Regions from separate parts of the Homo sapiens genome. Here region 1 is linked to region 2. Evidence: fine-mapped expression QTL. A gene starts in region 2. The other region holds a variant in brackets. All regions are shown on one strand. Distances are between the middles of the regions. Region 1 has its middle 23 kb from the start of RAB1A. Region 2 holds the start of RAB1A (RAB1A, member RAS oncogene family).

Region 1 (4,396 bases), 23 kb after region 2:
TCTCTTTGGGATGATGGAAAAGTTCTAGCAATGGATAGTAGTGATGGTTTGTACAAAAATGGGAAAGTACTTAATGCCGCAGAACTGTATACTTACTAGTTAAAATGATAAATTTACGTTATATGTATCTTACCACAATAAAAAATCAAATCAAACATTCAGCAATATATACTGTACATAAAAACATGCAACCTTAATATTTCATTCACCAAAAGCTCTTTTCTGTGTGATATCCATGGACATACTCACTGTTCCTTGGAATTTTATCTAATATGTTTCCAAATGTCCTGCTGGACTGCACTATAGTCAATCCAGTGATTTCGGTCATCCCTGAAATCCAATTGCTTAGGTAAGTCATTCCCATGGGAACTCACTGAGCTCATTCTGACATTCAGAAGAAATTGGCCCTCTTTATTCTTTTTTTCTGAGTCCCAACCTTGAATTTAGTTCATTAACATCAAAAATCATTCAGATCATTAGGAGTTGAGAATTAATATTGTTTTTCTCATCGACTGGGAAAGCAAGGTACAAGCAGCACCCCACTTCTTTCCTTTGCACAAAATCTTATTAATAAACGTTTGACACTATGTCTGTGAAATTGATTTGTTCTGTTGGTAACAGAAAAAATTGAGTGTGTCTCTAGTAGAGTGCATTGTGCACAAAATTATTCTCTATACTACTCAAAGTTGCAAAAGAGTTGTCACGCAACTCATGTGGGATGAAGTGCAGTCAATATTTAAATGCATATAAGTCAGGGCATTTGTTGCCTGGTGGCTATAGATGGCATAGTCCCCCTTCTTCTACCATGAACCCCTACACCTAAGTCAGTATCAGTTAACATATATGGATTCATATGTAAGGGAGTTTTTATTTTGAAACTGAGAATGTGGAGAGAAAGTCATTCCCACAGGAACTCACTGAGCTCATTCAGAGAAGGGGAGAAGCTGAAGTTAAGGAACTGGAGAATGGGAAGAGAGCAAAAGGATCCTACCTCCTTCCTTGGACTGGTTTTGAGCTCACTTGTGAGGGTTAGAGGCAGACGTTGATGGAATTATTCAAGAGGGACTTTGAGAGACCTGTCAATAACAGAGAAGGAAGAGGAAGAGGCCCCTTTCTCCCACTTCTGTTTGTCCCAGCACTGTTCTTGGACTCTGAGACCCGGAAGCATTAAGGGTACCCAGAGACCACAGCTTGGGGGTAGTAGCACCATGAGGCCACAGACAGCAACTGTGGATGAAGAGGATCCAAATCTGGAGAAGACGCAGGTGGGTGGCGGGGGCAGGGGGCAGGTCATGATGGGCACTAGGAAGCACCCCTTTGGCTATTCCAAATAGTAATGCAGGGTCACTGTGAAGGGAAGGAGGAGAGAATCTCTTATTTTTTAGGTTTTTAACCTTTTATTTTAAAAAATTTTGTAGACAGGATCTCGATATGTTGACCAGGCTGGTCTCAAACTCCTGGCCTCAACTGATCCTCCTGCCTCAGCCTCCCAAAGTATTTGGATTACAGACATGAACCACTGCACCCAGCCTGAGAGTCTCTTTATGAGTACAGCAATTCATAAAAGCCAGTAGATATTGAATTACACACAGATAGCTTTATTTAACCCCTATAATAATATCCTGTGAAGGTGGTATTATTATTATTATTATTTCCACTTTACAGATGTGGAAAGTGAGCCTCAGAAAGGTTAAGTAACTTTCCCTAGGCCACATGGCTCCCAAGAAGCAGGGCTGAGATTAGAACCAAAGTATATTTGACCCTAAGACCCATGTTCTTAACTGCTGTGCTTTACTGCTTCCTAATGTAGAAAACAAGGACAGGCCAGGCGCCGTGACTCATACCTGTAACACCAGCACTTTAGGAGGCCGAGGCGGGCAAATGACTTGAGGTCAGGAGTTCAAGACCAGCCTGGCCAACATGGTAAAACCCCATCTCTACTGAAAATACAAAAATTAGCCAGGCATAGTGGCATGTGCCTGTAATCCCAGCTACACAGGAGGCTGAGGCAGGAGAATCATTTGAATCCGGGAGGCTGAGGTTGCAGTGAGCCGAGATTGCACCATTGCACTCCAGCCTGGGTGACAGAGCAAGACTCCATCTCAAAAAAAAAAAAAAAAAAAAAAGGAAAACAAGGACAGGTTTGGAATGTCAGAATTCCAAATGCTTTTAGTTGCTCCATTTTAGACTTGTCCCGGCTGACTTGTAGTCTTTCTTTTAAGTTCATACATTCAATATAAGTATGTGACTTTCTTTTGTATCCTACAATAGTACTTAAAAAATGTTCAGGCCGGG[C/T]GTGGTGGCTCATGCCTGTAATCCCAGCACTTTGGGAGACCGAGGCGGGTGGATCACGAGGTCAGGAGATCGAGACCATCCTGGCTAGCACAGTGAAACTCCGTCTCTACAAAAAAATACAAAAAAAAATTAGCCAGGTGTGGTGGCGGGCGCCTGTAGTCCCAGCTACTCGGGAGGCTGAGGCAGGAGAATGGCGAGAACCCAGGAGGTGGAGCTTGCAGTGAACCGAGATGGCACCACTGCACTCCAGCCTGGGTGACAGAACGAGACCCTGTCTCAAAAAAAAAAAAAAAAAGCTCAGCATTAAAGTGGGAACCAACAACTTATCCCACGCCATTTTCAGATAATGTTGTTTAAAAATAAATGCCCTCTAAAGCAGCAGGCCCCAACATTTTGGCACCAGTCACCAGTTTCGTGGAAAGCAATTTTTTCATGGACCAGAATGGCGGGGTGGATTGATTTGGGATGATTCGAGTACATTACATGTATTGTGCACTTTATTTCTGCTATTATTAATATTACATTGTAATGCATAATGAAATAGTCATACAAGTCACCATAATGTAGAATTAGTGGGAGCCTTGAGCTTGTTTTCCTGCAACTAGACAGTCCCATATGGGGATGATGGGAGACAGTGACAGATCATCAGGCATTAGATTCTCATAAGGAACGTGCAGTCTAGATCCCTTGCATGCACAGTTCACAATAGGTTTCATGCTCCTATGAGAATCTGATATCACCACTGATCTGACAGGAGGCAGAGCTCAGGTGGTAATGTGAGTCATGGGGACAGACTGTAAATACAGATGAAGCTTTGCTTGCTCACCCGCCACTCATCGCCTGCTGTGTGGGCCAGTTCCTAATAGGTCACAGACCAGTACCAGTCCACAACCTGAGGATTGGGGACCCCTGCTCTAAAGTATAATTGTGAAAAAATTAAAGAGTATTTTCATTCACCTCTCACTTTCTTTATCACCTGGAAGTGTATATAATTCATGCACCAATTTGTCTGAAAAGTCTGAATGCAAACTTCCTGAGATGAGGGGCCTTATTTTACTCTCCGTTGTACCTCTGGAGCCCAGAACTGTGCCTCCAGTAGAGTAGATGCTCAATACATACTTGTTGAAGGAAGAAATGAGTGAGTGAATGTATCCAGACTATGTGAAGAAAAGGGGAGGAAGTGTTTTGGACACACAGAATGAATGGAACTAGCAAGCCTATCTGGCCCCTTGGGAGTTATAGTCACTACCTCTGGGGCCTGGCCTGTGCTTTCGTGCAAATTCCTTGTCCAAGTGGCCCAGCTAATTGTCATAGCTGCCTTAGGCCCCAGCATCTTGCATTTTGAAGCCTAGCCTATGGAAGAGTTCTCCTTGAGTCAGAAGCCCACTGTGGGGCCAATGAATATGCTCCCCTCTCGACTCCTCACAAAAGTCCTGAATGGAGGACCGTGGAGGAGTATGATCAGTTTCAGCTATGAGGGGTTATCAAGTAAGGCAGATACCATGGTCCACATGTCCTCTACTTCACTCATTAAACTGAGGTTCCTGGACCAGCAGCATCAGCATCACTTGGGAGCTTATTAGAAATGCAGATTCTCAGGCCTACCCAAGACCTATTGAATCAGAATCTGCATCCTAACACAATCCCTGAGTGATTTCTAGGAACATGAAAGTTTGTGAAGCCCTGTTATACAATAACACTCTTGCAACATTCCTGCCAGACACCAGGTAGCTTTTTGATATTACCTTTTACCTTGGTAGTACATTTTTAGGCTCTTATTTTGCCTCTTTTTTAATTCTTACTTTTATTATTTATTTGTTTTTGTTTTGGAGAGATAATCTCACTCTGTCACCCAGGCAGGAGTGCAGTGGCACAATCTCGGCTAACTGCAACCTCCACTTCCTGGAGTCTTGCTCTGTTGCCCAGGCTAGAGTGCAGTGGCATAATCTCGACTCACTGCAACCTCCACCTCCCCAGTTCAAGCGATTCTCTTGCCTCAGCCTCCCGAGTAGCTGGGATTACAGGCGCCCGCCACCATGACTGGCTAATTTTTGTATTTTTAGTAGAGACGGGATTTCACCATATTGGCCAGGCAGGTCTC
Region 2 (4,396 bases):
CACTCCAGCCTGGGCAACAAGATTGAAACTCCGTCTCAAAACAATAAATAATTTTTTTTTTGAGACGGAGTCTTGCTCTGTCGTCCAGGCTGGAGTGCAGTGGCCAGATCTTGGTTCACTGCAAGCTCCACCTCCCGGGATCACGCCATTCTCCTGCCTCAGCCTCTCGAGTAGCTGGGACTACAGGTGCCCACCACCACGCCCGGCTAATTTTTTTGCATTTTTAGTAGAGACGGGGTTTCACCGTGTTACCGAGGATGGTCTCGATCTCCTGACCTCGGGATCCGCCCGCCTCGGCCTCCCAAAGTGCTGGGATTACTGAGGTGAGCCACCGCGCCTGGCCTATATCTAAACTTCTTAAGCGCAAGGATTATATTCCTAAATCCTGGTACTAATAGAATGCCTTTCATGAAAATGATGCATACCACCTGAAGAATGCTCACACGGTTTTTCAAATTCTTTTATATACATTTGAATTTCACCACTACCCTGACAGGAATAATGACTCCAATTATCCTATTTTACAAAAGGGAAAAAAAATTCAGAGGCTGAGTAACTTGTCAAAGTTCTCAACTAATCTTGAAGATTTATTTACACTAATAAACATATATATAGCAAATTCAGAAAATTTCCTGAACAGTAGAGGTCTATAAACCTCGATAAAGCAGTAAATCCATGTTCTTTATTGTTACCAAGAAAACTACTAAATTAAGAACCTCAAGTTCACCTCCGTTCAACTGTGCAAAACCAACTTTGTCCTTGGAGCCCTTGAAAAAAAATTTTTTTTAAACTGTCAACACAGCAAATGTCACTACAAGAACACTACCCTCAACTTCTAAAACATGAAATTCTAATAAAATACTACGGTTTCTGTTTAGTGCAAAAGATTTCAGCTTCAAGCCACACTATTACAAAACTTGTAAGCATTTTGCAAGAGCCATGTGACACACATATGACAGTCAGCTAAACTGGTGGGTGGACCTTTTAGGGGAAAATGTCTAGCAGTAATTGACCAAACCAGCAAATAAACTCAACTTTTACAACAAATACTGATGTTCCCCCATCCCTCAAAGGCCTTTGACACTGAAAAGGAATACCAATTCGGTCTCTTCCAATTATTCATTACTTTACATGCATGTAAACTGTAGAGGAAATTTTTAAAGGGCCATTGAGGAGAGCCCAACAAACTCTACCCAAGGGAAGTGAACACCAGTTCCCAGGAAAGGTGCCAGGTGTGTCACATCTGCTGTGGTGACTTCTTGAGTAAGCAAGAAAAAGAAATGCATTAACTTTTCATGACACGTCATGGAACCTCATTCCCTATCTGCAAGCATCCAAGCAGGTAATCCAAAACCTACATACAGATCTATCATAGGTCCCGTTCGTTTCTCTTTCAACTTGACAGCAAGCTTCCTTTAATCTGCGAGTATCAAAAAGACATTTCTTGGCTTTAGTTTTTTTTTTTTCCCTTGACCCACAGAAGACAAAATGACTTAGGTGTCCTCTTTAAAAAAAAAAAAAACAAAATTCTCACAAATGCCCAGGTTTTTATAGGAGGGCAATGGACCCGGCGAGCTCTTAAACAACTCCTCCAAGACACAACTCAAAAAGAGAACTAATAAATGTTCAGTTGCTTCTCACCATCTACTCATTCCCCTCAATCCCACGCAGTCCCGAAAAGCATCCATATTACCTGAAACCTGGCGGGGAGGATGGAAGGAGAGAGAGCCAACAAGCTCAGGATTTACAAGTAAAGCTGGTTTCTACCCCGAAGATCCTGACAGCTCCGCAGAGTGCGGGCGCAGGGTCTGACAGTGCCCTCTAGAAGGGCTCTCCCACCCCATCCCCTCCCCTTAGAGACAAGTCCTCCTTCAAAAGTCACTGCCTCCGAGAGAAGATACCCCTTCACACCGCCCCAGGCCCCTCGGCAGGCTTCCTCAGCACCCGCCCCGCAGTCAGGCCCTCTAACCTGACCCGGTCCAGGCCCGGGCGGCTCACCCCTCCGGCCCGACCCCTCCCCCGCGCGGCCGCCCCTCCGCGTCAGACAATGGGGCCCGACTCCCGGCCGCCAGCCTCTCCTGACCCATCACCCTCGCCTCACCCCAGCCGATGCCCCGACTTCTGCCCCAACCCTCCTCGACCCCTTTAAGATCCCCCAAGCTGGCCCACGGACCCAGCCGACCGGTGCTCTCCTGAACTCACTATTCGGGATTCATGCTGGACATGTCACTGCAGCTGCCGCCGCCGCCACCGCCGCCCTTGCTGCCGCAGCCGCCGCCCTGACTCTCCGCGCCACGGGTAATCGAAAGAAAGGAATGAGATAGGCTGTTCCGGGAGAGCAAACGTCTTCCCCTACTCCGTCCCCTAGAACACAATCAGCAGCCGCCGCCACTCAGCTATCGCTTCCACCCAAAATGGCCGCCGGCGAACCAGGAAATAGGGAAGCCTTAGACCGAGGGGCCTTTACACGGCCCAGAGGGCGGCCGCACCGCCTGGCATGCCGGGAAAGGGAGTCGCGAGCGCGGCTACGCGAGCTGAGGACAGACAGTGCGACGCAAGGCCAGGACTCAGCTTCCCGCCAAGCGCCGCGCCTCTGGGGCATGCGTACCTGAAGGGTTGTCGCCCGCCCCATTCCCCACTCCCTCACCTCCCCACCCTCGGCCCCTCCCTGCTCCCCTCCCCTCTGACTCGCTGGCTAGGACTTCGCTCGGACTCCCCCTGGCGGATTGGCTAAGGCCGAGCTGCCCTAGTGATGTCATCAGTGAGACGTGGCAGCCGGGCGAGTCAGCGCCCCACGGGGGAGGGGGCGGAGAGGGGCGGAGGGTGGTGCCGGCGGCCGACGGAGGCTGGGGGTCGGGGGAGGCAAGGGACCGGGGGGAGTGGTCAAACCGGAGGGACTGCCGGGGGTGCGGGGGCGGGGAGGGGGCCGGGGTACGAGCGTGTCGGCTCCTGCCTCCGTTGCGGCTGTTGCTGACCTGACCAGCTTGAGGCTTGCGCCACCCTGGTGGCGCTGGTTGGGGGCTGGTAGGAGGACGTCCGCTCTAAGAACAGAAGGGAAGTCAAGGGGCTCCCTGGACGGCACGGAGCGGTTCTTCTCGTCACTCACCCATCCCCACCTGGGTTCGGTCATCGTCCATTGTTGGCCCCGCGCACTACCATTTTCTTCTTAGATTTCTTCCCATTCTTACTGTGCCCCGCTCTTAACTCGTCAGCCTGGCTATTGCAGTAGTCTCCAAATGGACTCTACCTCTCTCTCTCCTCTCCGCCCCAGCCCATTTGCACACACAGTCGGATGTATCTTTCTGAGACAGCACCTGCATCGTGACCCCACAACCTTCAATGGCTCCACATCCCATGGATGGGAGGGACACAGCCCAGAGCCAGCCTAAAATCCAATTCCTACCTTCGTCCCGGCCTTCAGGTTGAATTGTAATGTATTATCTTTTAGTTGCTACTAACCCTGAGCCATTCTGCAAGACTGGAAAATAATAAGCAATAAAAATAGGCAATTCATCACTATATAGTGCCTACAATTTCTGGGAGTAATATTAACTCATTTTTAAAAAACCTATGGCCTTAACAGCTCTCTTTAATCAGCTCAGGAATTTAAATCTCCGCTAAACTTTAACACATTATCTTGAGTTATTTAATTACAAAGGGCATAGTGTAATACATTGTCCAAAGTTTATCTTCCAACTTCTAAGAACTAAGAAAATTGTCTCCTGAGACTTACTGCAGAATCACTTTAAATTCCTACAACGCCAAAATATAGAAAGAAGGCACTTATTTCTACCCATACACTAATTACACCCCTTAGCCCTCAAATTCTGCCATGGGCCTTAGTTGATGAACTTATCAAAAGTTACCCGAGTTTGGTTTCTGAAATGAACATGTTGGTTTCTGAAATGAACACGGTCACCACCCCAGGAATACCCTGAATGGTTCAGTAATAGGCACCAAAAAGTGTTCGTTACCCTGGACTCTAAAGCCCATTAAAAAAAAAAAAAGCTTATTTTGATTTCAAATAAAAACTCAGAAAACTGGCCAGGCTCGGTGGCTCATGCCTGTAATCTCAGGAATTTGAGAGGCCAAAACGGACAGATCACGAGGTCAGGAATTCAAGACCAGCCTGGCCAACATGGTGAAACACTGTCTCTACTAAAAATACAAAAATTAGCCAGGCATGGTGGCGCGTGCCTGTAATCCCAGCTACTCGGGAGGCTGAGGCAGGAAAATTGCTTGAACCCGGGAGGCGGAGGCTACAGTGGGCCGAGAGGCCACTGCACTCCAGCCTGGGCGACAGAGCAAGATTCTGTCTTGAGGGGAGAAAAAAAATCTCAGAAAACTGTGACCTGAGTCACTAGTAAAGGCACACACACACACACACACACACACA

What was found. PIP is the estimated chance that this variant, and not a neighbour inherited with it, causes the effect. A credible set is the group of variants that fine-mapping cannot tell apart.
Region 1: its variant is the best candidate, but not a certain one, in a credible set for the expression of RAB1A in whole blood (INTERVAL, PIP 0.90).

The regions. Positions count from the first base shown.
Region 1 is chr2:65,150,634-65,155,029 of GRCh38, forward strand. No RefSeq gene overlaps it. Among named protein-coding and RNA genes, the nearest start is that of RAB1A, 23 kb to the left of the region's middle. The variant C/T (reference allele first, on the strand shown) is at 2,296.
Region 2 is chr2:65,127,691-65,132,086 of GRCh38, forward strand. It overlaps RAB1A (RAB1A, member RAS oncogene family), which reads right to left and starts at 2,416. Exons shown (of 6, transcript NM_004161.5): 1 at 2,203-2,416. The coding sequence starts at 2,225. RefSeq lists enhancers at 1-160, 1,684-2,198, 2,195-2,454, 2,199-2,712 and silencers at 2,015-2,064, 2,565-2,914.